7 linked regions of the Homo sapiens genome follow. The protein of the gene in region 1 purifies or fractionates together with the protein of each later gene. This does not show direct contact. Each region holds a gene or a part of one and is shown in the gene's direction. Other genes may lie near its edges. The genes, in order: CEACAM16, GCA, MPP1, EEA1, USO1, OXSR1 and PSMG2.

The links.
Region 2: the proteins of CEACAM16 (region 1) and GCA purify together in Homo sapiens (affinity purification with mass spectrometry; one large-scale study listed by BioGRID and IntAct). This does not show direct contact.
Region 3: the proteins of CEACAM16 (region 1) and MPP1 purify together in Homo sapiens (affinity purification with mass spectrometry; one large-scale study listed by BioGRID and IntAct). This does not show direct contact.
Region 4: the proteins of CEACAM16 (region 1) and EEA1 purify together in Homo sapiens (affinity purification with mass spectrometry; one large-scale study listed by BioGRID and IntAct). This does not show direct contact.
Region 5: the proteins of CEACAM16 (region 1) and USO1 purify together in Homo sapiens (affinity purification with mass spectrometry; one large-scale study listed by BioGRID and IntAct). This does not show direct contact.
Region 6: the proteins of CEACAM16 (region 1) and OXSR1 purify together in Homo sapiens (affinity purification with mass spectrometry; one large-scale study listed by BioGRID and IntAct). This does not show direct contact.
Region 7: the proteins of CEACAM16 (region 1) and PSMG2 purify together in Homo sapiens (affinity purification with mass spectrometry; one large-scale study listed by BioGRID and IntAct). This does not show direct contact.

The regions. Positions count from the first base shown.
Region 1 is NC_000019.10:44,705,651-44,709,150, forward strand, and holds part of CEACAM16 (cell adhesion molecule CEACAM16 precursor), read left to right. Parts: coding exon 1-218; intron 219-2,210; coding exon 2,211-2,537; coding exon of another isoform or gene 2,538-2,692; intron 2,693-3,500. UniProt on the Homo sapiens protein: Required for proper hearing, plays a role in maintaining the integrity of the tectorial membrane.
Region 2 is NC_000002.12:162,350,632-162,354,131, forward strand, and holds part of GCA (grancalcin), read left to right. Parts: intron 1-1,706; coding exon 1,707-1,776; intron 1,777-2,780; exon of another isoform or gene 2,781-3,102; intron 3,103-3,500. UniProt on the Homo sapiens protein: Calcium-binding protein that may play a role in the adhesion of neutrophils to fibronectin. May play a role in the formation of focal adhesions.
Region 3 is NC_000023.11:154,791,986-154,795,485, reverse strand, and holds part of MPP1 (55 kDa erythrocyte membrane protein), read left to right. Parts: intron 1-3,200; coding exon 3,201-3,344; intron 3,345-3,500. UniProt on the Homo sapiens protein: Essential regulator of neutrophil polarity. Regulates neutrophil polarization by regulating AKT1 phosphorylation through a mechanism that is independent of PIK3CG activity.
Region 4 is NC_000012.12:92,922,796-92,926,295, reverse strand, and holds part of EEA1 (early endosome antigen 1), read left to right. Parts: intron 1-3,500. UniProt on the Homo sapiens protein: Binds phospholipid vesicles containing phosphatidylinositol 3-phosphate and participates in endosomal trafficking.
Region 5 is NC_000004.12:75,808,077-75,811,576, forward strand, and holds part of USO1 (general vesicular transport factor p115), read left to right. Parts: intron 1-876; coding exon 877-975; intron 976-2,355; coding exon 2,356-2,463; intron 2,464-3,500. UniProt on the Homo sapiens protein: General vesicular transport factor required for intercisternal transport in the Golgi stack; it is required for transcytotic fusion and/or subsequent binding of the vesicles to the target membrane.
Region 6 is NC_000003.12:38,245,537-38,249,036, forward strand, and holds part of OXSR1 (serine/threonine-protein kinase OSR1), read left to right. Parts: intron 1-538; coding exon 539-685; intron 686-2,131; coding exon 2,132-2,196; intron 2,197-3,500. UniProt on the Homo sapiens protein: Effector serine/threonine-protein kinase component of the WNK-SPAK/OSR1 kinase cascade, which is involved in various processes, such as ion transport, response to hypertonic stress and blood pressure.
Region 7 is NC_000018.10:12,709,542-12,713,041, forward strand, and holds part of PSMG2 (proteasome assembly chaperone 2), read left to right. Parts: intron 1-3,160; coding exon 3,161-3,219; intron 3,220-3,500. UniProt on the Homo sapiens protein: Chaperone protein which promotes assembly of the 20S proteasome as part of a heterodimer with PSMG1.

The DNA.
Region 1 (3,500 bases):
AGTTGACTTCAACACGTCCCTCACCCTGTGGTGCGTGTCCAGGTCCTGCCCAGAGCCCGAGTATGTGTGGACCTTCAACGGGCAGGCCCTAAAGAACGGCCAAGACCACCTCAACATCAGCAGCATGACAGCCGCCCAGGAGGGGACGTACACATGTATTGCGAAGAACACCAAGACCCTGCTATCTGGATCTGCCTCAGTCGTGGTCAAGCTCTCTGGTGAGTCACCCCCAGCCTGACCACCCCCCAGTCCCCATGGAGGCCTCATCAGGCTGCGAAGGTTAAGCCACCATTTGCCCAACAGAGAATTGGAACATGGTAGATTCACAGTTCATTCATGAGCTGTGACAAAGTGGCATATCAGGCAGATCTGTTTGCATCTGGGTCTAAAGAGAGACAGCCCGTGTCCTGTTCACCTAGAGAACAAATGGCAAACCATTGTGGGTTGACAGAGTGGAAAATCACTCAGATATCACTTCAGGTGGGTGCCACTGCTCTAAATTCAGTCACCAGCTGTTTAGGGCCTTGACCCTCTACCCGCCCCCACCCCACCACACAGACAGCTGAAATTCTGTGCAGCCAACTAGACTACCCAGTTATCTGACCCAGATGATGGGTATACACACACACACACACACACACACACACACACACACACACACAACTGAAGAATCACAGCCAATTGCTGGCAAATGGAGAAACAGCTGGGGAGGCATTGTCATCTTGCTTCTGTCCTAAAATGACCTGAGGGCTGGGGCAGTGCAGGCAGCTGGCATTTCAGAGCCATTGGGATCCTCAGGCGACATTTTCTCATCTTCCGGAGATGGTGGCTTTGAACATTAAGGCCTCATTAATTCTACCTCGGTTCCTTCCCAAGTGGCCATCAGCCCCCGGGGGACAGTGGGGAATGGTCGTTCCCTCCCTCCCACTAACAGGCTGGGTCTCATCCAAGGGGTGGATTTTCACCCAAAGCAGAAATGGCATCCCCAGAGGTAAGTGTGACTCCCGCTCCACTCATCTGGGGCTTTGGCAGCTGGTCTTGACAGGAGACAGGGGGATGGACCAGATGACCTCAGGCGCCACCCCAAGCCCTGTCTGTGCAGTCCAAGAAGGGGGGTGTCCAAGGTATGCAGGTATGTGCAGGGAGTGGATACAGTGCCCCCAAGGGCTTCTAGCACTGTCAGCAACTCTGTGGCAGGTGCTGGGAGAGACACAGAAGAAAAGGAGACGCCACCCTCCCTCCACCTTGGGAGACTAATCTGATGGAGGAGACAAGGCCTCTGTCCTTGGAGAGATGATCCTGGGACAGGGAAACATGGCTCCTTTATTCAAGGAATAGCTGCTCAAAGAGAAGAGGCAATGCCTCATCCTTCATGTCAGTAATGAGGGAGATATGACAACCCACCCTCAGTGAGCTCCTAGTCAGATGGAGGAGACACAGTCTGCACTTGGGGAGAAATTTCCTTCTGATGGGGAGACTTGGTCTCCAGGAGACATGGCCCTGTTTTTTGAGCATTCCTAGTCTGATGGGGTATCCACCTTTGGGGTACTCCTAATCTGATGGAGGAGTACAGGACCCCACTTTCTAGGAATTTCCAGTCTGATGGAATAGACATTTCCCTCTAACTTCCAGGGTCCCCAACTTGATTGGAAAAACTCAGCAACAATTTAGAATTTCTCAATCTGATGGAGGAAACAGGGCTGCCGCCTTGTAGGAATTTTCAATCTGATGGAGGAGACATGCTCTCACCCTCAAGAATCTTTCAATCTGATGGAGGAGCTATGGCTTACACATTCTGGGGTCTCTCGGTCTGACAGACACAAGTCCCAACCATCTCATGGGGAAGACATGGTCCCCATTTTCTGGGATTTCCACTCTGATAGGGGAGACATGGCCCCTATATTTTGGGAATTTCCAATCTGATGGAGGAGACATGACCCAAGCCTCTAGGGTCTTCCAGTTTGATGGGAGAGACACCTCTCAAAGTCTGGGAATTTGTAGTCTGATAGGGGAAACACAGACCCCAGCAGACACTACTGGGACCCAGAATCCACCTCCACCACCGCACAAGTCACCTCCTTCCTCAGTCTCCTTCCCAGCACCCTACATGGGGAGTGCCAGCCAGCTGGGGGGAGGCCAGCAAGGGTTGGGAAGGGGACACCATGCCAGATGCAGACCAAACTGACCCAGCCCGCTCGCTCTCTCCCCAGCTGCAGCAGTTGCCACGATGATCGTGCCCGTGCCCACCAAGCCAACGGAGGGCCAGGACGTAACACTGACCGTGCAGGGCTACCCCAAGGACCTGCTGGTCTACGCCTGGTACCGCGGGCCTGCCTCCGAGCCCAACCGGCTGCTCAGCCAGCTGCCGTCAGGAACCTGGATTGCAGGCCCCGCGCACACAGGCCGGGAGGTGGGCTTCCCCAACTGCTCGCTGTTGGTGCAGAAGCTGAACCTCACAGACACTGGCCGCTACACACTCAAGACTGTCACAGTGCAGGGCAAGACTGAGACACTGGAAGTGGAGCTGCAGGTGGCCCGTGAGTGTGTGGGAAGGGGCAAGGCGTGCCCCTTTTTAGACAAGGGCTCCCAAAAGGAGCCTTTGCTTCCTCCATCAGGCTGGGGGGACATAGACCAAAGATGGATACCCATCCCCCATCAGGCTGAAGGAAGCAGCCTTGTCTCCTCCGCCTAACTTGGGGGTCCCCAAATAGGGTTCTGCCTCTTCTATCAAACTAATGACCTACACTGTGGGTAGACAGGCCTCCTCCATCAGACTGAGGGTTGCTAAAGGGGACCCCCATGCCTTCTCTCTCAAATAAGAGGTACAGCACACTGAAGGTTTTAAAAGAGAAGGCATAGTCTGATGGTGGAGCATCCTTTTTCCTGCAGACAGGTGGACCCTAAAACATAGGGTCCATATTGGGGTAATGGGTTAATTATAGGAGTTTACCTCTCCTATCAGACTGCAGGCAGAGAATAAGGATGAATCAGGCCTCCCTATTCAGACTGGGAGATCCTGTGCAGTGGGGATCATGTCTCCTCCTTTCTATTATTGTGAGGGCAAAGTTTCTATCATCAGATGGTGGAGTTTCTCTTTCAAACTGAAATAAGGATGATTGCTCCATTAGGATGGAGGCCTGTAGGTGTGGAAGTTGTGTCTCCTCACAGAATGGAAGTTCCCAGATGTTGGGGACCATGTCTCCCCATCAGACTGGGAGCTCTTAGAAGTCAGGAACAATGTCTCCCCCATTGGATTGGGAATTCCCAAGTGTTGGAGACCATGTCACCTCCCTCAGACTGGGAGCTCTCAGATGTTGGGAACCGTGTCTCCCCATCAACTGGGAGCTTCTAGAGTCAGAAACTATGCCTCCTCCATCAGACTAGGAGCTCCCAGAGTCAAGATCCAGGTCTCCTCCATCAGACTGAGAGCTCCCAGAGTTATAGACCATGTTTCCTCCGTCAGACTGGGAGCTCCCAGAGGCAGAGACCACGTCTCCTTC
Region 2 (3,500 bases), on another chromosome or scaffold:
TGGACATATATTTGGAAACTCTTTTTGACTGCTGAACTATTTCAGCATTTTAATTGTCAGCAATAAATTCGCTATGTTTGAACTATTTGATACTTTCCTTAAATTTCCCAGTCTTGTGCTTTTGAATAAATAAACTCCATAAAGACAGGGTTCTGGTCATATTTTCCCTACTTGACAGGTAGATATTAGGAATATATAAACATTTGATAAATGTTTCGTATGGATGAATTAACTATCCCATTTTCAATTTTTAGTCTAAATATTTAGACTGTATTTTTTCATATATTGAGTTCTACCTAGCTTTGAGGGATCAGGTGCAACATCTGACTTAGGTATACTGCTCCTGGAACCCAACTACTGAACTTACATCTACAGCCATATCCTTTTTTGATGGGCCTCATAATTAATAATGCTCTATGAAAAACACCTGATTAAAGGTTTCTGCAGTGTTCTTATTTATAGGATGAAGTATTCTAAACAGTAAGGATTAAATCATCAATTAATTTGGGGAAATTCTGGTTTCTGTCTTCATACATACAGACACATGCATCACAGTAATACCAACAACTTTAACTTTTGTATGCACACTGCTTCTACTTTTCCACACAGCAACTGTGATGTGGGCATGACACAGCTACCTTTGTATTATAGATAAGTAAGTGGAGACTCAAATTGAGTAACTGAACAAATAGGACTTGAAGTTGGATATCATTTTAAAATCTTGCTGCCTAACGAAGGGCAATTGATTTTTGTTAATTCTCTACCTGATGCTCTTGTAATTTAATTAGGACATTCAGCTTTCTACCGCTAATGCTACCTAATTCAGTTAAGGGAAGAATGCTGCTTAGTATTTTGTAATTTCTATTAGAACAGCTGCAGTTTTGTAAGGGGTTCTTTTGCCAAAAATCCATTAGAATGTGAGTGTTAATAATATTTCTTAGAAGTAGTTTAGAAAAGTTTTTTGTTTTGTTGTTTCTTGGATCTCTTATGAAGAGTAGGTTTTAAATTTGCCTCCTTGATCCTTCATCATAGCTACATTTTGCATTTGTGCCAATGTTTGTGATGGTTCCAAAGGAATTACTTATTTTTGTCAAAAACAGGATGAGGTACTAAATCATAATGAGAATACTCAACCTATTTCATTTCCATTGTGATTTCTTGTTTGCATTTTAAAACTTTATTTTCTGTAGTAAGTTCAGGCAAGACTTGTTTGGGCAGTAATCAGAAGAATAGCAGCAAGATACAGGGGGACTCTAGAATTTTGCTAGGGGTAATGGTGGGGGAAAATATATTTTCCCCTTCCAGTTAAAGCTTCAGTATTATTTATAAATAATCTCCTCCCAAAACAGCATGAGTGGGGATGTTTTCGAGACTTTTCTGAACACATTTTAGGCATTTTTCTAACTGTTTAACTGTTTTTCTAACTGTTTAAAATAGAAGTACAATGACTCTTATGAGATTGTCTTGAACCATTATAGAACAGGGTAATTGTGCTATTCTTCAGAAGTGGAAGAAATTATTTCTGTGGTATGATATTTTGTAATATGCCTTTGTTGTCAGTAATTATCTCTAGAATTTTGTAGTTAATTATAGAGTAATGTTTCAAAGAATGCATATGTCTTGATTGGCCTAGAACAGTCAATTGACATTTTAATATGCTTTTATACAACTGCACATTAAATTAGGTCATAATTATTTTTAAACAGGATGGTGAAGTGGATGCTGAAGAACTTCAGAGATGTTTGACACAGTCTGGAATTAATGGAACTTACTCTCGTGAGATCTTTTTTCCCCTTTTGTTGAAATTATAATAGGAAGTTTATTTTCTTACTTTTTTTGTCCCTGTAATTAAAATGTTTAAAAAATTATCACAGTTATACATGCACATAGTTTAAGGAGTCAAATAACTGTAAAACTCGTTATGAAAATAACTGTTCATTGTGTATTCCTGTCTCCTTAACATTAACTGCTCATAGAGGACACTTCTTTTGACTTTTAAAAATCTGATTCTTTTGAAATTTGCTTCCAGATTTCAAGATAGAATATTTTTTTCACGATTGATTTTTGGATTTTATGATTATCTATTGATATCCTGCTATGAAAGATGAGGATTTCACTTTATTTTAACCTTAAACTCTCCCCTGTCTCTGCACTCCACAGAGGAACATTTCCCATCCTCCTGTCCTTCCAATGTAGTTATAATATATAGTAACTTTTGTTAGGTATGTTAGTCTTTACCTTATTTTTACTATCTGAATGCTGCTTATAGCTGTATCTTATGATAATGTATGATTACTTTTCCTTTTTATATAATGTTTTGCTTTTCTTGAAATCACTAGTTGTCAGGTATTATCCTAGAACTCTGGGATATGCAGTTTTTTATGTGTAGCTGTCATACTGGGATTCTTTCACCATCATTCTGAAGCTGGTTTCCCCGTTTCTCTTGAGTTAGATCTCCTTTTTACTCCATCTCTTGTTGTCCTCTTTTAAAAAATTCATTATCTTATTTTAGTGAAATGTATAGTTAAGCAGCTTCTTAATATAAAAAAAAAATACGGCCAGGCGCCGTGGCTCATGCCTGCAATCCCAGCACTTTGGGAGGCTGAGGTGGGCGAATCATGAGGTTAAGAGATCGAGAGCACCCTGGCCACCATGGTGAAACCCCGTCTCTACTAAAAATACAAAAATTAACTGGGCGTGGTGGCACGCACCTGTAGTCCCAGCTACTCGGGAGACTGAGGCAGGAGAATTACTTGAACCCAGGAGGCAGAGGTTCCAGTGAGCTGAGATTGGGCCACTGCACTCCAGCCTGGTGACAGAGTGAGACATCATCTCAAAAACAAACAAAAGAATATATGGGAGATAAATTTTTGAGAGCTTATGTATCTAAAAATGCTTTCATTCTACCTTCAGAATTGATTGGCCAGGTATAGAATTCTAGGTTACAAATGATTCTCAAGTAGAATTTTAAAGGTATTGCTCCATTGTTTCTAGCGTCCCTTGTTGCATTATCTTTCTCTTTCCTGCCTGGATGTGATGTGATTTGTTATTCCTCTCTGGAAACTTGTGAGATCTTTGTCTTTAGTATTCTGCGATTTGATGGTAAAGTACCTAGTTGTGTTGTGTGGGGAACTCAGATGGTATTCTCAGCCTGGAAACTCCTTTGCTTTAGATGTAGGACGTTTTCTTCAATGATATTTTCTGTTTCTTGGAATGCTTTTTGTTTTCACTGGGTTTTCTACTTTTATCATCTTTTTCCTCCTATCATTTTTTTTTGCTGAACTTTTTGGGAATTTTCCTCAACTTTATTTCCTAAACCTTCTATTGAGTCTTTCATTTCTGCTTTTCATTAATATCCAAGAGCTTCTGTTCTATTTTCATGAATGTGATATTGTCCCTTATCTCTCTGAGACTATTAATATATTTTTAAAGTTTTTTCTTCCTATATAACCTTTGTTTTTTCCAGATTGTTTTTTCTCCTCATTTTGCTTGTTTTGGTT
Region 3 (3,500 bases), on another chromosome or scaffold:
GCCAGTTTATGGATTTTTAAGCAAATATGAATATAATCATTCTTTCACTGTTTATGATGAAGCTAGTATACCCTTCATCACATTATTATTATTTTTTGCTTAACAATAAATCTTCAAGATCACCCTCAGAACCTCCTTTTCCTACCTACATGGTGTATCCCGGGTATCATAAGTCAATTTTTTAAATATAAGCCTATCTTAGACAATTTTGTTATAACAGCAATGCCATATGACTTGGTGTCATGTGAGTTTTTTGAAGTTCTAGTTGCTAGAGAAGGCAGTTTCTCTTTCTCAGTACTTCCCTCATTTGAGGTCACCTGATAGCGAATACTACTTCAAACCTCACCATGTTTTTTGTTTGTTTGTTTGTTTGTTTGTTTTTCTGAGACAGGGTCTTCCTCTGTTGCCCAGGTTGGAGTGTAGTGGTGTGATCATGGCTCACTGCTGCCTCCAACTCCTGAGCTCAAGCAATCCCCCTGCCTCAGCCTCCTGAGTAGCTGGGACCACAGGCTTGCACCACCACACTCAGCTAATTTTAAAATTTCTTACAGAGGCAGGAGTTTCACCATGTTGCCCAGGCTGGTCTCAAACTCCTGGGCTTAAGCGATCTCCCCACCTTGGCCTCCCAAAGTGCTGGGATTACAGGTGTTAGCCACTGCACCTGGCCCAAACCTCACCATCTTATCAAAGTTTCTACTTAGAAATCAGAGTCCCTTAGAAATGATGTAAGCCTCTACTCCAGACTTCCTTCTCTCTCATCTTCTAGTCCTTTTCTAGGCCTTGGGCAGGCCAGTGGACACTGCTCAGGCATACCATCTATTCCCATCTAGGGACCCTTCTCCTTCCCCACACAGTGAATGGCACACTCCTCACAGTTCTGCCTATTGGGAAGATCTTCCCTCCCTACTGTCTTTGAGGGTCACCTCTGGGTGTGACTGGAATGCAGCTATCCCCTATTTTCAGCAGACCCTTCCATAAGCCCACTTCAGGCCTATTCCTCCTCCTCGTCCTCCTCCTCCTCCTCCAGGTGGCTATATCATTTTTGATTTAATATTTTATCTGGGGTGGGCAGGGAGCATTTTCAGAGGTTTCCATAGTTTTTCCCCATTGTGATTGCTCTTACCCAGATCAGTAAGATGAGGAAAGAACAGCAAAGCAAACTGAGAAGGAGCATTTTAAGGAGAAGAGAGTGATCACCTGTGAGACTGATCCACAGGTGATCTACCATGGAGTGGTGTAGCAGTAGCCATTCATTGCCATTGATGTAGGGTATCCACTTGGATATGCTTCAGTTTATCCATTCTACTGTTGATGGACTTTTGGGCTATTTTCAGGTTTGGGCTTTTAAGAGTAGTGTTGTTCTGGAAAGGGCACACCACTACTTTCCTGGAATTCCTGCCAAAAATGCAAAATCCCAGTCTAATCTTGAAAAAACATCAGATGATAACCCCAAACTGAGAGACATCTACAAAATAACAGGTGTGTACTCTTCAAGAATGTCAAGGTCATGAAAGAAGAAAAAGAAAGGCTGAGGAAATTTTCCAAATTAAGGAAGAGTAAGGAAATGTGAAATGCATGATTGGATTCTGGTCTTAGATTGGATTCTGGGACCAAAAAGTCCTAGGTTGGATTCTGGACTGGGGAAGAAATATATAGCTATAAAGGACATTCTTGAAAGGGTTGGCAGATGACAATATTGTGTCAATGTTAAATTTTCAGTTTTGAAAATGCTCGTTCCTAACATATAGAGACATCTATGGGTAAAGGAGAATGAAGTCTTCAGATTACTCTCAAATGGTTCAAAAATTAAATTTTATAATATTTTTTAAAGAGTACTGGCTGCTCTTGGAATGGCGCCAAAAAGATGAAAGAATTTTATAGTGACACCCATATAGCCACACCTCCTAGATTCTACAGTTAACATGTTGCTGTGTTTGCTTTATCACATTTCTATCCAAAAACTGCCCATCTATCCACCTTCTTTTTCCTGGTATTTCAAAATAAGTTTCAGATATCAGAGCACTTTACCCCTGAAAGCTTCAGCATGCATATCATTGGCTCAAGTTCAGGATTTGTTTATGGTTCTTTTCATCCTGTTATTAAATTGTAAGAGTTCTTTATATGTTCTGGATACAAATCCTTTGTCAGATGTAAATATTGCAAATGTTTATTCTCAGGCTGTGTCATACCTGTCTAGTTTCTTATGTAAGATGTTTGAATTTGATGAAGTCAGTTGTTTGCTTGTATGATGATTGCTCCGTGTCTCGTCTACTAAATCTATGCTTATCTCAGTGGAGTTTTTTGATGAATAGACTTCTTACTTTTAAAGTGTTTGTCTTTTTAGTTTTCATTTTATACTCGGGACCTTTTATGACATTTATCGTGCAGACCATTTTTCCCCGCTGCACTGCAGTGTCACCTGACTATAAATGTGTGGCTCTGTTTTTGCACTCTCTGTTCCATTACATGGGTCGTTTGTCTTTCTTCTTACCACAGTGCCTTAAATTACTTTAGATTTATAATAAAGAGGCCTTGCTGCCTGGTAGAGTAACTCATTTAGCTTTGCTGTCTTTGAGATCAGGGGAAGAAGTCACAGTGGCAATGTATTATTGTTATCACCGCGGTTCGGGGCCCAGTCCTAAGTGCCTAATTCTACAGGTAGAAGTTCTTTGTAGCCTAAGGGGTGATTCATGAGAAACTGATGCTAACCTGAATTACCTTTATTGCTGTGTGACCGAGAGCATCAGGTTGTTCAAGGAAATACAAAGGAGAAGAGAACATGCCAGAAACCCTTGGAGCCTGAGGTGCCGCAGGATTCAGAATCTTTCTAATTTTGTTATATATTATGTAATACCCCAAGCAGGATCCAGGAGAGCACCATGTAAATCAAGGCACATTAATATTTCTGCAGCAACCTAGATAAACATGTCTATTTTATTTATTTTTAGAGACAGGGTCTCACTCTGTTGCCCTGGGACTGTAGCTGGGACTACAGGTGCACACCACCACACTTGGCTGACATGTCTATTAAGTTGGAGAAATAAAGCTTACAAACAGCTTCATGTCAATTCAAATAAGAATGAGGCCAAACTTATGAAATAAGTTTTCAGAGCCTCTTGAATGTTAGAATTGCAGATTGTGGACTGGCTGTGGGCCTTGCTCCTGATTTCATACGTTGCTTTGTTGTTTTGGCTTGGCAGGCTGTATCGCATCCATTGAATACTGTGACCGAGGACATGTACACCAACGGGTCTCCTGCCCCAGGTAGCCCTGCCCAGGTCAAGGGACAGGAGGTGCGGAAAGTGCGACTCATACAGTTTGAGAAGGTCACAGAAGAGCCCATGGTAATCCCCCGTCATATTGTCGCCCACCAGTTACTCTCTGCCCCATGAGTCACTGGGCCAGAAGAGTCAATGCAAGAGGCTGCTCATGGAGTTAGGGAATTGGCCAACCCCAAAATTGTCTTTTCATTCTTATCTCAAATTCCTCCTCAAAGCAGG
Region 4 (3,500 bases), on another chromosome or scaffold:
CTTGGCTGGGTGCAGTGGCTCATTCCTGTAATCCCAGCACTTTGGGAGGCCGAGACGGGCGGATCACCTGAGGTCGGGAGTTCGAGACCAGCCTGACCAACATGGAGAAACCCTGACTCTACTAAAAATACAAAATTAGCCGGGAGTGGTGGTGCATGCCTATAATCCCAGCGACTCAGGAGGCTGAGGTAGGAGAATCACTTGAACCCGGGAGGTGGAGATTGCAGTGAGCTGAGATTGCTCCATTGCACTCCAGCCTGAGCAACAAGACCGGAACTCCGTCTAAAAAAAAAAAAAAAATTATGTGGCATTCCTTTAGCATTTTGTTTTTAGATGAACTTTTCATTTTAACTATTCTTATTTTCTTCTGAATAGTTTCCTTTAAATAGCATTTTTTAAAAGAAGAAACAGACAAACTGCTTACCATCAATTAGAACTCAAAGTGTTTGAACATCATCAATAAGTCTCAGGATACTTTACGGAAATTTGGTTTCTGGTTCTCCTGCTTTTGTCCCTCCTCCTGCTCCTCCTTTTTCATTAGCTTACTAAGGTGTTTCTCTGAGGCTTGAAAGAAGCTGGAAAACAAAAACAAAAAAACCTCAAAACAAAACCAAAGTGAAGTAGCTCCAATATGTATGTATTGAATATTTTACTTAATAGTCCTTCAAAGAAAAACATGAATTTAAAGTACTTGATGGTTAGAAATTTAATCAACGTTTAGTACCTTAGGCAGCTTGTAAACCTTGTTGCCATTTCTTTCTTAAGTATTATAACTTACTGTGGGCTGGCTTAGTGGCTCATGCCTGTAATTCCATCACTTTGGGAAGCCGAGGCGTGCAGATCACTGAGATCAGGAGTTCGAGACCAGCTTGGTCAATGTGGTGAAACCCCGTCACTACCAAAAAATACAAAAATTAGCCGGGCATCGTGGTGCACGCCTGTAGTCCCAACTACTTGGGAGACTGAGGTGGGAGAATTGCTTGAACCTGGGAGGCAGAGGTTGCAGTGAGCCAAGATCGTGCCACTGCACTCCAGCAACAGAGTGAGACCCTGTGTTAAAAACAAAACAAAACAAAACAAAAAAACTGTGATTAGTGTTTTTTTTTTTTTTTTTGAGACATCTTTTGTGGGCCAACTGTGTGCTGTGCAGACAATGATGGGTAAAGTAGTCATGAATTTTTTGTGGAGTTTAGCGTCCAGTGGAAGAGAGAGGAATTGTTCAGAGATTCATACAACTATACTCTTGAATGAGTTCTAGGAAGGACAAACTCAGGATGCCCCAAGAACACCCAGCAAGAGGGCCCTGGTTTTAGATGTTGGGAAGGCTTCCCAGATTAGTTGCCCATCTAAGTTTGATGAAAGTATTGCTAATTTATTGAAGTGAATTTTAAAAAGTGACAGCTAATGGAATGATTTTCTTTTTGAGTAGTTTTTTTTTTTTTTTTTTTTTTTTTTAGCATGTTAGGAATAAAGAAGAGATTAAGATATTAAAGAACCAGGACTAGAACTAAGAATAAAGAAGACGTTAAGAAATGAAAAGAACCAGGGCTAGTACTCAATTTTCTTCTCTAATTCCAGTGGCCTTTTGCTTGAGCTAAAGAAATAATGTAATTTAGTAGTTAAGAACATGAACTCTGATGCCAGACTACCTGGGTTTGTATCCTGTTTCATTTACTATCTGTGTAGTTTTGGAGAAGTTACTTCTCTGTGTCTCAGTAAAATAGTTGTAATAATACTAGCCTCCTTATAAAGTTGAGAACTAGATAACTAATATGTATAAAAGTCTCAGCCAGGCGCGGTGGCTCATGCCTGTAATCCCAGCACTTTGGGAGGCTGAGGTGGGTGGATCACCTGAGGTCAGGAGTTTGAGACCAGCCTGGCCAACATAGTGAAACCCCGTCTCTACTAAAAATAGAAAAAATTAGCTGGGCGTGGTGGCGGGCACCTGTAATCCCAGCTATTAGGGAAGCTGAGGCAGGGGAACTGCTTGAACCTGGGAGGCTGAGATTGCAGTGAGCCGAGATTGTGCCATTGCACTCTCCAGCCTGGGCAACAAGCAAAACTCCATCCCAAAAAAAAAAAAAAAAAAAAAAAGTCTTAAATGTTAGCTGCTGCTAATGTTGGTGTTTTGTTGTTGTTTTTGGTGTTTAACTTTCTTTTCTTATTTTTTTCTTTTTTGAAACAGGGTCTTGCTCTGTCAGCCAGGATGGAGTGCAGTGACACAGTGACACCGTCACGTTCACTGCAGCCCCTGCCTCCTGGGCTCAAGTGGCCCTCCTGCCTCAGCCTCAGGAATAGCTGGGATTATAGGTGTGAACTACCACACCTGGCTGATTTTTTTAAAATGGTGTTTCAGTGTTATTATAATTATAAACTCCAAATTTCTTTAAGGAACACTTTTCTTATCACTTCCTTTATTTTTCTAATCTCCATTTTTTTTTTTTTTTTTTGTAGATGAGGTAGATGAGGACTTAGAACATAGGTACATTCATTTTATGTACTACCGAATATTTATTTTGTGCTAACTACTGTGCAAAACACTCTTGAGAGTAAAAAAAAAACCTGCTGAGTTTTAATGGAGGAGACAGATAAATAATTACAAAACAATGTGATAAGTGTAATAGATACACAGAGGAAAAGTTTGTAAGCACAAAAGAAAAAGTAACTATGTGGTGGAGAGGGGGTGTGGTAGGGGAGGGCAAGGAATAGAGATTGTGGAAGTCTTTGCAGAGGATGGCAGTGACTCAGGCAAGGAGGGAAAAAGGACAGAAGGGCATTTTAGAGATAGGAACCAGACAAATCCAAGAGCATGATATAGTTTAGTATAGAGTAGGGGGATTGTGCGTATTTCTGGATGTGGATGGGATGTTTGCAACAGGTAGCTTGAAGGGTTTTGGACCTTATACTGTAGACAGTAAGGAGCCACAGAAAATTTTTTTTTTTGTTTTGAGACGGAGTCTCGCTCTGTCGCCCAGGCTGGAGTGCAGTGGCGCAATCTCGGCTCACTACAAGCTCCGCCTCCCGGGTTCACGCCATTCTCCTGCCTCAGCCTCCCGAGTAGCTGGGACTACAGGCGCCCACCACCGTGCCTGGCTAATTTTTTTGTATTTTTAGTAGAGACAGGGTTTCACTGTGTTAGCCAGGATGGTCTCGATCTCCTGACCTCGTGATCTGCCTGCCTCAGCCTCCCAAAGTGCTGGGATTACAGGCGTGAGCCACCGCGCCCGGCCAGAGAATTTTAAAGTTATCAAATCTGTAATAAGGAAAAACCCTCCAAAAATATTTCTCCCAGGTAATCTTTATTTTATTTTATTTTATTTTATTTTATTTTATTTTTGAGGTGGAGTTTTGCTCTTGTTGGCCAGGCTGAAGTGTAATGGTGCAATCTCAGCTCACTGCAACCTCTGCCTCCCGGGTTCAAGCAATTCTCCTGCCTCAGCCTCCTGAGTAGCTGGGATTACAGGTGCCCGCCACCACTCCCAGCTAATTTTTTTTTTGTA
Region 5 (3,500 bases), on another chromosome or scaffold:
TCAGTGTCTCCAGACATTACCAAATGTCCTCGGGGATGGGGGGATATGGGGAGAAATCACTCCTGCTGAGAGCCATTGTTATAATTGCCTTTCTTTTCCTGTACTTTTTTTGGGGGAGGAGAAGGTGAGAAGTTTGGAAATTCAACATTAATAAAAACTTTCAATTAATACCCTGGTTTTCATTATAGTACTACTGCTTTCATCTGTGTTTGGTGGTCCCTAGTCTAAAGATGTCCTGTTTTGCCCAGCCACATAATAAACCTCAAGTCTTCATCCAGGAAAGGAGGAACGGTTGCCTGATGCCTAAGATTGAGACAGGGATCTGATGATCTATTTCTTAAATAGTCTTTTAACCAGGCCTGCAGTTTTTAACCTCATTTTTATCTGTACTTCCAGTGGTATCTAATGATACCAGTTCCTAACCTTTCTGGTAGTTAATGCATTCATTGTAAGTCAGGTACTATCTTAACTTTCTCAGTGGTCATCCTAGCTTTCAGCTTTCTCAGGTGTGCTGATTTAGTTATCACTGTTACTTGCTTTCTCAAAATTCCCCAATTATATTGCTCTCTTCTCTTACTGTTCTTGTTTTTGTAGGTTTCTTCCTCTCTCCCTCCCATCCTTCCTTTCTTTCTTCCTTCTCCCCTCCCTTCCTGTCTTTTATGATTTTTTTTTTTTGCATGGGATTTCAGGAGGGAGCAGAGGTAAATGAATGTGTTGAATTTTCCATCTTGAACCCAAAATTCAAGAATAGTTCTTTAGAGTTAGATTTTAAAAGTAGGAGGTTGTAAATCATTTTTTTAAATGTCTCCCTGTAAATATTTCCTTGATGAATTTAATACCATTTAATGTTATGACTCAACTATTTTTGTCTCTTAGGAACTGGCAACTTTAAAGTCTCAGTTAAACTCACAATCTGTGGAGATCACCAAACTACAGACAGAAAAGCAGGAACTGTTACAGAAAACAGAAGCGTTTGTAAGTATTTTCTCTTTTTTCTCTGGAAGGTAATAAAGACAAGGTTGATGTATTATTTCTTAGCCACAATTAAAAAGAAACAAATTCATCAGATAGCACCTTCTCTTTAGATTACTTACTAGCCGGTATTCTAGTAACATAGGCTTCATGTTCATGGTGACAGTCGTTTTATAGTCAGTCTCACCAGATTAGTTTATTCAGTTACTTAATAGTTTATTTTGCTGGTATTACATTCTATTTCTGTCCCTTCAGTCCAAGCTGGCAGTTTTTCTGCTGTCATAAAATATTCAGAAACCGTTGTTGTTTTCTCCAGAACATTCCTTCTCATACTTTTGCAATATAGGTAGACTGAGAATTTTCCAAATCTTCTAATTCTGATTCTTTTTTGCTTAGCAATTTCTTCTTCAATTTATCTCTCTTCTCTCACATTTAACTTTAAGCAACAAGGAGAAACCAGGCTGCACTCCAACACTTTGCTTAGAAACCTCAGTAAAATATCCAAATTCATTATTTACAAGTTCTGCTGTCCACAAAACACTGCAACACTATTTGGCCAAGTTATTTGCCACTTTATAACAAGGATTGCCTTTCCTCCGATTCCCAGTAACATGTTCCTAGTTTTCATCTGAGACCTCACCAAAAGCACCTTTAACATTCATATTTCTGCCAGCATTCTTCTTCTCACTATGACCATGAAGCTTCTTTCCAACTCCGCTCTTTTCTTTCTGAGCTCTCACCAGAATCACTTAATGTCCATATCTCTAGCAACAGTCTCATCAAGGTAATGCAGGCTTTGTCTACCATGCACCTCTCTTACAGCCTCTACTCATTACACAGTTCCAAAGCTACTTCCACATTTTTAGATATTTGTTGTGTCACTACCCGACTTCCTAGTATTTTAGAAAAAAGACAAGGAAAGACTGAAAAACTGTTATTCAGGAGTGTCTCCTCTAGCACTTGAGAAAAGATTTGCATTTCACTAATAATGATATTTGGCTCAATTTATCTACCTATCTAGGGTGGTAGTATGGACTTATAGGAAATTTATGAAGGAAAGGCTTTGAAAAATATTCTGTGTTTATTAAATGCTGGGTTACAGTTACATTAGAGCTGCCTTGCTGATTACTTTTCTGGGCTTACCTACCTTGAGGCACCTTAGCCCAGCCTTCCTCGTACTCTTATGAGATTTGATGCTCTTCCATGTGGGAACAGCTCATCTGACAGTGGAGAGCACTTTGTTGCACATAAATACATAAGGAATTATATTTTCTGTTAGTGAAAGTAAAATATCAAAATGGCAAAAAAATTAAATAACCCTTTGGGAGTTCATATTGATTGTAATGTTTAAGAGACATCTTTTTTTCCAATTTCTAATTTCAGGCAAAATCAGTTGAGGTACAAGGAGAGACCGAGACTATAATAGCCACCAAAACTACTGATGTAGAAGGAAGACTGTCAGCATTATTACAAGAGACCAAAGAGTTAAAGGTTTGTTTTTGGTGCAACTTTTATTTACTGCATATGATATGAAATGAACTCTAGGAAATTTTATATATCTTTCAAATTCTTAGATTTATGAAGAAAGCTAATGATGTGTAATTTTATCTCACAACATTTTCACTCCTATATTGATGATTTAAGATGGCACAAATGAAAATTTTTTTTGTTTTGGGTTTTTTTGTTTTGTTTTGTTTTTTTGAGATGGAGTTTCGCTCTGTCACCAGACTGGAGTACAGTGGCGCGATCTCGGCTCACCACAACCTCTGCCTCCCAGGTTCAAGCAATTCTCCCGCCTCAACCTACTGAGTAGCTGGGACTACAGGCGTGCACCACCACACCCAGCTAATTTTTGTATTTTTAGTACAGACAGGGTTTCACCACGTTGGCCAGGATGGTCTCCATCTCTTGACCTCGTGATCCACCTGCCTTGGCCTCCCAAAGTGCTGGAATGCTGGAATTACAGGTGTGAGCTGCCGCACCCAGCCACAAATGAAGCTTTTAAAATACTATTTCAAATAATGATAATATGTAAGATAAGCATACATATGCATGTACTATAAAAGTAAAATTTATTGAAAATATTTTTGTTTTCTTTCTTTCTTTTTCTTTTTTTTTTTGAGAGAGAGTCTCAATTTTGTGTTCCAGGCTGGATGGAGTGCAGTGGCATGATCTCAGCTCACTGCAGCCTCCACCTCCCAGATTCAAGCGATTCTCCTGCCTCAGCCTCCTGAGTAGCTGGGATTTCAGGCACCTGCCAACATGCTCAGCTAATTTTTGTACTTTTAGTAGAGACGAGGATTCGCCATGTTGGCCAGGCTGGTCTCAAACTCCTGACCTCAGGTGATCTGCCCGCATTGGCCCCCCCCAAAGTGCTGGGATTACAGGCGTGAGCCACCACACCCGGCCTGTGTTTTCTTTTTAAGATCAACATCTAATCACAATAACAAAACAAGGAGTACAAATTTAGCTAATACACAAGCCACATGTAGGCTTTCCATAAGCCGTGGAACATAGGCACATTAAAT
Region 6 (3,500 bases), on another chromosome or scaffold:
CTGTATTTTGGAGGTGCTGTTTTGCTGGGCAAAGGAATGGAATAGATTTTGTTAAAGATAAATATAATGCAAACTGAAGACAGACACAAAAGACTATATATTATATGATTCCATTTATATGAAATATCCAGAAAAGCAAATTTATAGAAATTAGGATCAGTTGTTGCCTATGGCTGGGTGTGGAAGCAGGAACTAACTATAGGCATGAGAGGACTTTTTGGGGGTGATGGAAGTGTTCTAAAACGATTGTGGTGATGGTTGCACAATTCTATATATGGTACAAAAATCGCCAAATTGTACAGTTACAGTGGGTAAATGTAGAGAAATATAAATTATACCTCACAGAGTTGTTAAAAGTTTAAAAGCCTAGAAATATTTGACTTCCGTTTGGAATAGATATATTCGGAGTAGACACAAAACCTGTACACTACCCAAAAACTACTTTGAAAATATCACCCTGAAAGGCTGAACTTGCTGTCAGCAGACCTGCCTCCCTTTCCACACAACTTAAGCAACACTGTGTGTGTTTTTGTTACAGCTCTTTCCAACAACTGATCCTGTGGGTACTTTGCTCCAAGTTCCAGAACAGATCTCTGCTCATCTACCTCAGCCAGCTGGGCAGATTGCTACACAGCCAACTCAAGTCTCTCTCCCACCCACCGCAGAGCCAGCAAAAACAGCTCAGGTAAAGCCGGGGATATGGTTTCATGGTCACTCCTTTGGATAGATGAAAAGAGCAGATATTAACGTGGAATATAACCTAATGTAATCAGGTTAATGTCTTGGTAGATTTTGAAACAAGTTAGAAATTCTGTCTTCACATTTTTAAGCATGTACAGGTAAGAGAATTTTACAAGGATCACATGCAGGTTTTTAAGCAACAGAATAAGTTAATGATGGAAATATTTCAAACATCAAAAATTTTGGGCTAATTTCTTGTCAGCTTTGTATTAGATAATTACATTTAACTTCAGAATGCAGCTCATGAAGTTCAACAGAGACTAGGAGAATCGATGGCTGTACTGTTTTTGTTGTTGTTGTTCACTCAGGCTTATACTTTTTATTAATACTCTTTGTTTTCTGTGGTTTTTCTCTATTACTCTTTTTAAGTTATTTGTCAATTTTGTGAGGGTTGGTTTGTTAAGTCCGGGTATTATAATCTGTAAATCATTTATCCAGGTGCACACAAACTTTATTAAATCATACTTCATTGAGAGCAGCCAAGTGAATGAAGGCCCCGTAGTGGGCTGCTACATGCTGTGTAACTCCTTCTCTCCCTTCAATAAACCTCAGACACTGCATACAACATGTGGCCCTATGGTACATGGTTAAAGTAAGACTTTCAACGTCCATTTATTAAATATTAGAAGTTCCATTTTCTTGTCTAACGTTTTAGATGAAAAGAAATATAAATTAAAGGTCTGATTTTTTTTTTTTTCTTTTGCACCCCAGTAGATCATCTCGTGTTCTGCCTTTGGAGATCACTGCTTTGAGCATTTCCAATTAGTCATGGCACTTACTTCATTTAACTTTGCATCCCTCAAGCTTTCCATTTCTGCTTGGCATATGGGAAAAGATACAGTTGTCTTAGGAAAATTGATGGAAAAATTAGATTCATTTTATAAACAACTTAAATCGAATGCATGTCCTCCCATAAGCAAGCGCTGTACAATTTTCAGAGAGGATTAGTTTAGCCATAAAAAGACTGGAACCTATGTATGGGTTGGATGGATTTCTGAAGGGCAGCTGGTTCAGGGTCTACCTTTTGTACTGCCATATGGTGCACTGGCAGATTTTTTAAAAATGAGAAACCTAGCTTTGTGTTTTTCAGTCTTGTAGAGGGGAACAGGGGTCTCAGAAATATAAAATGTAAATGTGGCTATATGTGAAATTTCATCTGGGCTTGAGAGTTTTCTTTCTCATTGTGTTGGACTTAAACTGACATTCAGCTTTTGTTGCTGCCTTGGAGTGCATGTCCTCCTCCAGCAGGGAATGTCCTGGGGATTAGTATGACCTCAGCTGGAGATGAAGAAAATTGCTGCCAAGTAAATGATTCCTCTGCCAGTGACCATTAGTCACCTCCCCACTTAATGTTTCAGGCAATGACTGTATACCTTTCAATGCTTTTTAGGCTTTGTCTTCAGGATCAGGTTCACAAGAAACCAAGATCCCAATCAGTCTAGTACTAAGATTAAGGTAAGTAGACATTTTTTGTTTTGTTTTCTTTTGTTTTCTGAATATTCTGCATGTGCTGTAATAGTCTGTGCCTGAGAGTAACTGGATAGGATTGTATGTCCTCCAGCATCAAGCTCTGTTTGCTTGGTGGTGTATTATTTTTCCCCAGAAATAATAGCAACAGTGTGAGGACCTGCATGTTAGCAGGTGTTGTGACTAACTGATGCACATGTTCTCTCAGTTGTTTCTGTGCTAATTGGTGATGAGTTTGTGTATTTACAGTGTAGCTAGTTTGGGTTAGGAGGTGTAGCCTGTAATTGAGGAACAGTTTTTAGGGGAGCAGCACTAACTGGCTTATCTGAAGATCAGTCTTATAATTGTGACGAGGTAAACTCTGAGATCAACTAACCCAAGAGGGGAGCACTTTTTGATTGTGGTAGATCAAATAAAGGCCTTGTTTTTAGAAGGTTAAAAGGAAACTTCTAAATGTTTTTGTAGTCTGTTTCTGTTTTGCAGCAAGTACCCTAAATTGGTGGTTCTTGGTGGGAACATATAGAGAGGTCCTGACAGATTGCTCAGCAGGAAGTGCCATAGGTAGCAGTCTGTTCATTTTAACTCCCTGCCCCGCCCCCCCCGCCCCTAGCACTAGTAGCTGGATTCAAATTCCAGAGCTTTCTTGTCAGAATCACTATGGCTGTTGTATTGCTCTAGTTAGGTCTCTTTCTACTCATAAATGCATTTGAAAAAAAATTAGTATTAAAGTATCACTTGAGGCAACTCAGGCCTTTTAAAACTATTACTAACATTTTAAAAAAGAGTTCCACTGAATTACCATTAACTCATTCCCCTTGCACATATAAATTCCTAGTCATCTTTCTGTAAGGTCCTAATTGGAGATAGAGGCAGCAAGAGCTATTTAAGAGAATGTGGTAAGGAGAATCTCATTGCTCCTTGCCACTAGGAGCAATGCATTTATGCCATAAATGTGAAAAACATATTTGGTTACCTTTCCTTTACAGAAGCCTACTTAGTATACCTGGTCTCATCTCAAAAATTCTGAGTTACTAGGATGTCTTGACAACTTCATGCTGTTTTAAATCTACATAAAGAATAACACTTTAAGAAAATTATTGTGAAATGTATTAAGCACAGACTATGTATAGCACTCTTCGGTACTGTGGAAAGGTGGATACTGAGAAAAGAGAAAATTAAATGACTCCCTTAATAATCAAGTCTAGGTTGGAAGTTGATTTGAACTATGTACTTACACAGCTAAAAGCAAATTTCAGGTAGTATATACATGCAGAAGTATAAGTTTGTATGTA
Region 7 (3,500 bases), on another chromosome or scaffold:
AGGCTGTAGTGCAATGCCACGATTTTGGTTCACTGCAACCTCCACCTCCCGGGTTCAAGCAATTCTCTTGCCTCAGCCTCTGGAGTAGTTGGGATTACAGGTCCACGCCCCCACGCCCAGCTAATATTTTGTATTTTTAGTAGAGATGAGGTTTCACCATGCAAGTCAGGCTGGTGTTGAACTCCTGACCTCAGGTGATCCAACCACCTTGGCCTTCCAGAGTGCTGGGATTACAGGCGTGAGCCACCACGCCTGGCCTAATTTTTGTATTTTTAGTAGAGACAGGGTTTCACCATGTTGGCCAGGTGGGTCTTGAACTCCTGACCTCAGGCAGTTCACCCGCCTCAGCCTCCCAAAGTGCCGGAATTACAGGTATGAGCCACCACGCCCAGCCCTCATAAACTTTTTTTTTTTTTTTTGAGATGGAGTCTTGCTCTGTCGCCCAGTCTGGAGTGCGGTGGCACGATCTCGGCTCACTGCAAGCTCTGCCTCCCGGGTTCACGCCATTCTTCCGCCTCAGCCTCCCAAGTAGCTGGGACTACAGACACCCGCCATCACGCCCGGCTACTTTTTTTGTATTTTTAGTAAGACGGGGTTTCACTGTGTTAGCCAGGATGGTCTCCATCTGCTGACCTCATGATCTGCCCGCCTCAGCTTCCCAAAGTGCTGGGATTACAGGTGTGAGCCACCACGCCCGCCCCTTTTAAAGCATCTGTGATTTCACCATTTATCTACCCAAGCTTCACCATAAATTTGATGTTCTTGCTTCAGTTTAAGCAGAATTCATGTTGCTGTGATAGGGGCACTTAATGCCTTATCCTTCTTAGTGCCTCAAACCAGATCCTTTTCAGGCGTGTTACAGCAAGTCAGTACAAGTTTATTTTGGTGCAAAATGTTTTCGTAAGTACACATTTCCTGTGAACTTTTTGAAGACCCCTCATATATCCGATTGTTGTGCTGTGCCCTTGAAATCTCTTTTACTCTAGAGCAGTCCCTTTTTTTTCATCACAAACCGATTTATTGAAGAAAAGACTAGGTGTATTGTTTTGTACAATGTCCCACCTTCTGATTTGTCTGATTACGTCCTCTTGTCACTTGGCTTGTTGTTCTAGCCCCTGTGTTTTCTGTAACTGGAGTTAGCTCTAAAGGCTTGATTAGATAAAAGGTTAATGTTTTGGGGCAGAATACAGAAAAGGTGTTGTTGCTTTCGTAATGTATCACATCAGAAGAAAAAAGTACTAGGAAACAGGAACCTAACAACAAAAAGAATTGCATAGGCCGGGCACGGTGGCCCATGCTAGTAATCCTAGCGCTTTGGGAGGCCAAGACGGGTGGATTGCCTGAGCTCAGGAGTTCGAGACCAGCCTGGGTAACATGATGAAACTCTGTCTCTACTAAAATACAAAAAATTAACCCGTTGTGACGGTGTGCATCTGAAATCCCAGCTACTCAGGAGGCTGAGACAGGAGAATCGCTTGAACCCAGGAGGTAGAGGTTGCAGTGACCCGAGATCACACCATTGTACTCCAGTCTGGGTGATAGAGCAAGACTCTGTCTTAAAAAACAAACAAAAAACAAAAATTAGCCAGGCGTGGTGGTGTGCTCCTGTAATCCCAGCTACTTGAGAGGCTGACACACAAGAATCACTTGAACCTGGGAGGCAGAAGTTGGAGTGAGCCGATATCGCACCACTGCACTTCAGCCTGGGTGACAGAGCGAGACTCTGTCTCAAAAAAAAAGAATTGTATGATACGCTGATGAGGAGAGTATTGCTATCACCGAAGAAGTGGTAGCTTACATTTTAAAAAGCTTAGCCTGTCCACCCCCTACAGATACATTCTTTTCAAACCTAGGTCAGTTGAATTGGACTACATGTGTTTGTCACAGATAGGTTAGAGGCTGAGTAATCTTTGCCTTAGTCTCTTTTCCCTAAATTTATACCCTTTTCCCTAATTCCTAAACTTCCTTTGGACTGAACATACCTGGTGCTTGCTAGATTTGCTGAGTTCAGCATACCCCCCAGTCACACCACATCACGCCAGCCATAGGAGACAATTTCCGAAAGACCTGTAACAGTAGAGACCTGATCCACCAAAGGATTTGCTGTTATTTGCAATCTGTTTATGGTAACCAACACTTACCCCTTAGCACAGTAGTAATCCTGTGTCCTTAGAGAGTATTTTATCCCTGACTCAGGAGCTTCTCATTCTTTTTTTTTTTTTTTTTTTTTGAGATGGAGTCTTGTTCTGTTGCCCAAGCTGGAGTGCAGTGGCGCGATCTCTGCTCACTGCAAGCTCCGCCCCCCGGGTTCACGCCGTTCTCCTGCCTCAGCCTCCTGAGTAGCTAGGACTACAGGTGCCCGCCGCCAAGCCTGGCTAATTTTTTTATTTTTTAGTAGAGACGGGGTTTCATTCACCATGTTAGCTAGGATGATCTTGATCTCCTGACCTTGTGATCCACCTGCCTCAGCCTCCCAAGGTGCTGGGATTACAGGCGTGAGCCACCATGCCCAGCTGCTTCTCATTCTTAGAAATGAAGTTGGGCAGGGAAGCCTTAAGCATTTCTAGAGTGTGCCCCTTGTAGAACCTGATGAAAGCTATGGATCCTTTTCCCAGTAAAAAATACAAACACATTGACTCACATGACATTTTATGTTATTTCAGATCCTTTAAAAAGTTCTAAGGAACACACATGTACCTATTTCAGGATTTTATTACATGGCTAACATTCTCCTACCTTTTACTGTTTTTTCTGTTAATCCCAATGAGTGTTGCTGTTCTCTGGAGACAAAGAGGGGAGAATATCAAAAGCCAAAAAGTTCAGTTTTCTTAAGGATGATTTTATTTGTCATAATACCAGAAATTTTCAGGGGAATACTTCTCTGGTTTTGCAGTTAAAGTCAAAAGAAAAATAATTTTTTATATTTTCTTACAGTTAACTTTTCAGAAATGAATCTGTTCCATAGAATAAAGCCCACTGGCTTATTTTAAGGTACTTCTAAAAGGTCTTATTTTAACCAGATGTCATATATGTTCCGTATTTTAATTATTGAAAACATTTAAATGCAAAAGGTATTATAATTCAATTTTTGTTTATCATAATAATTTCAACTTGTATAACTTCACTGTCATATGATTTCATTTTCTTCTTGTTTTTATAGTGTATTCATTGCCTTCAAGAAAGCTGGTGGCTCTACAGTTAAGATCCATTTTTATTAAGGTTAGTATGTTGTAGTTTGCCTTTTTGTTTATTAAAGTGTAATGAGAAAATAAGTAACATTAGGGATTAAGATTCAAAAATTACTACTGTTTTTACCATATGTACAGTTAAGATCTGATTCTACAGAGAAATAATCTTACAATATTTCAGATGTGTTACTGTCTTTTCATGATTATATAGAAAGGAAGCAGGGCTTTTATCTTGAGTGTTAACATATTTTCAGTTCGGGTAGCATTGGTGAAAAAATGTAAGCATATTAATATTAGAGGTTTATTCCATTT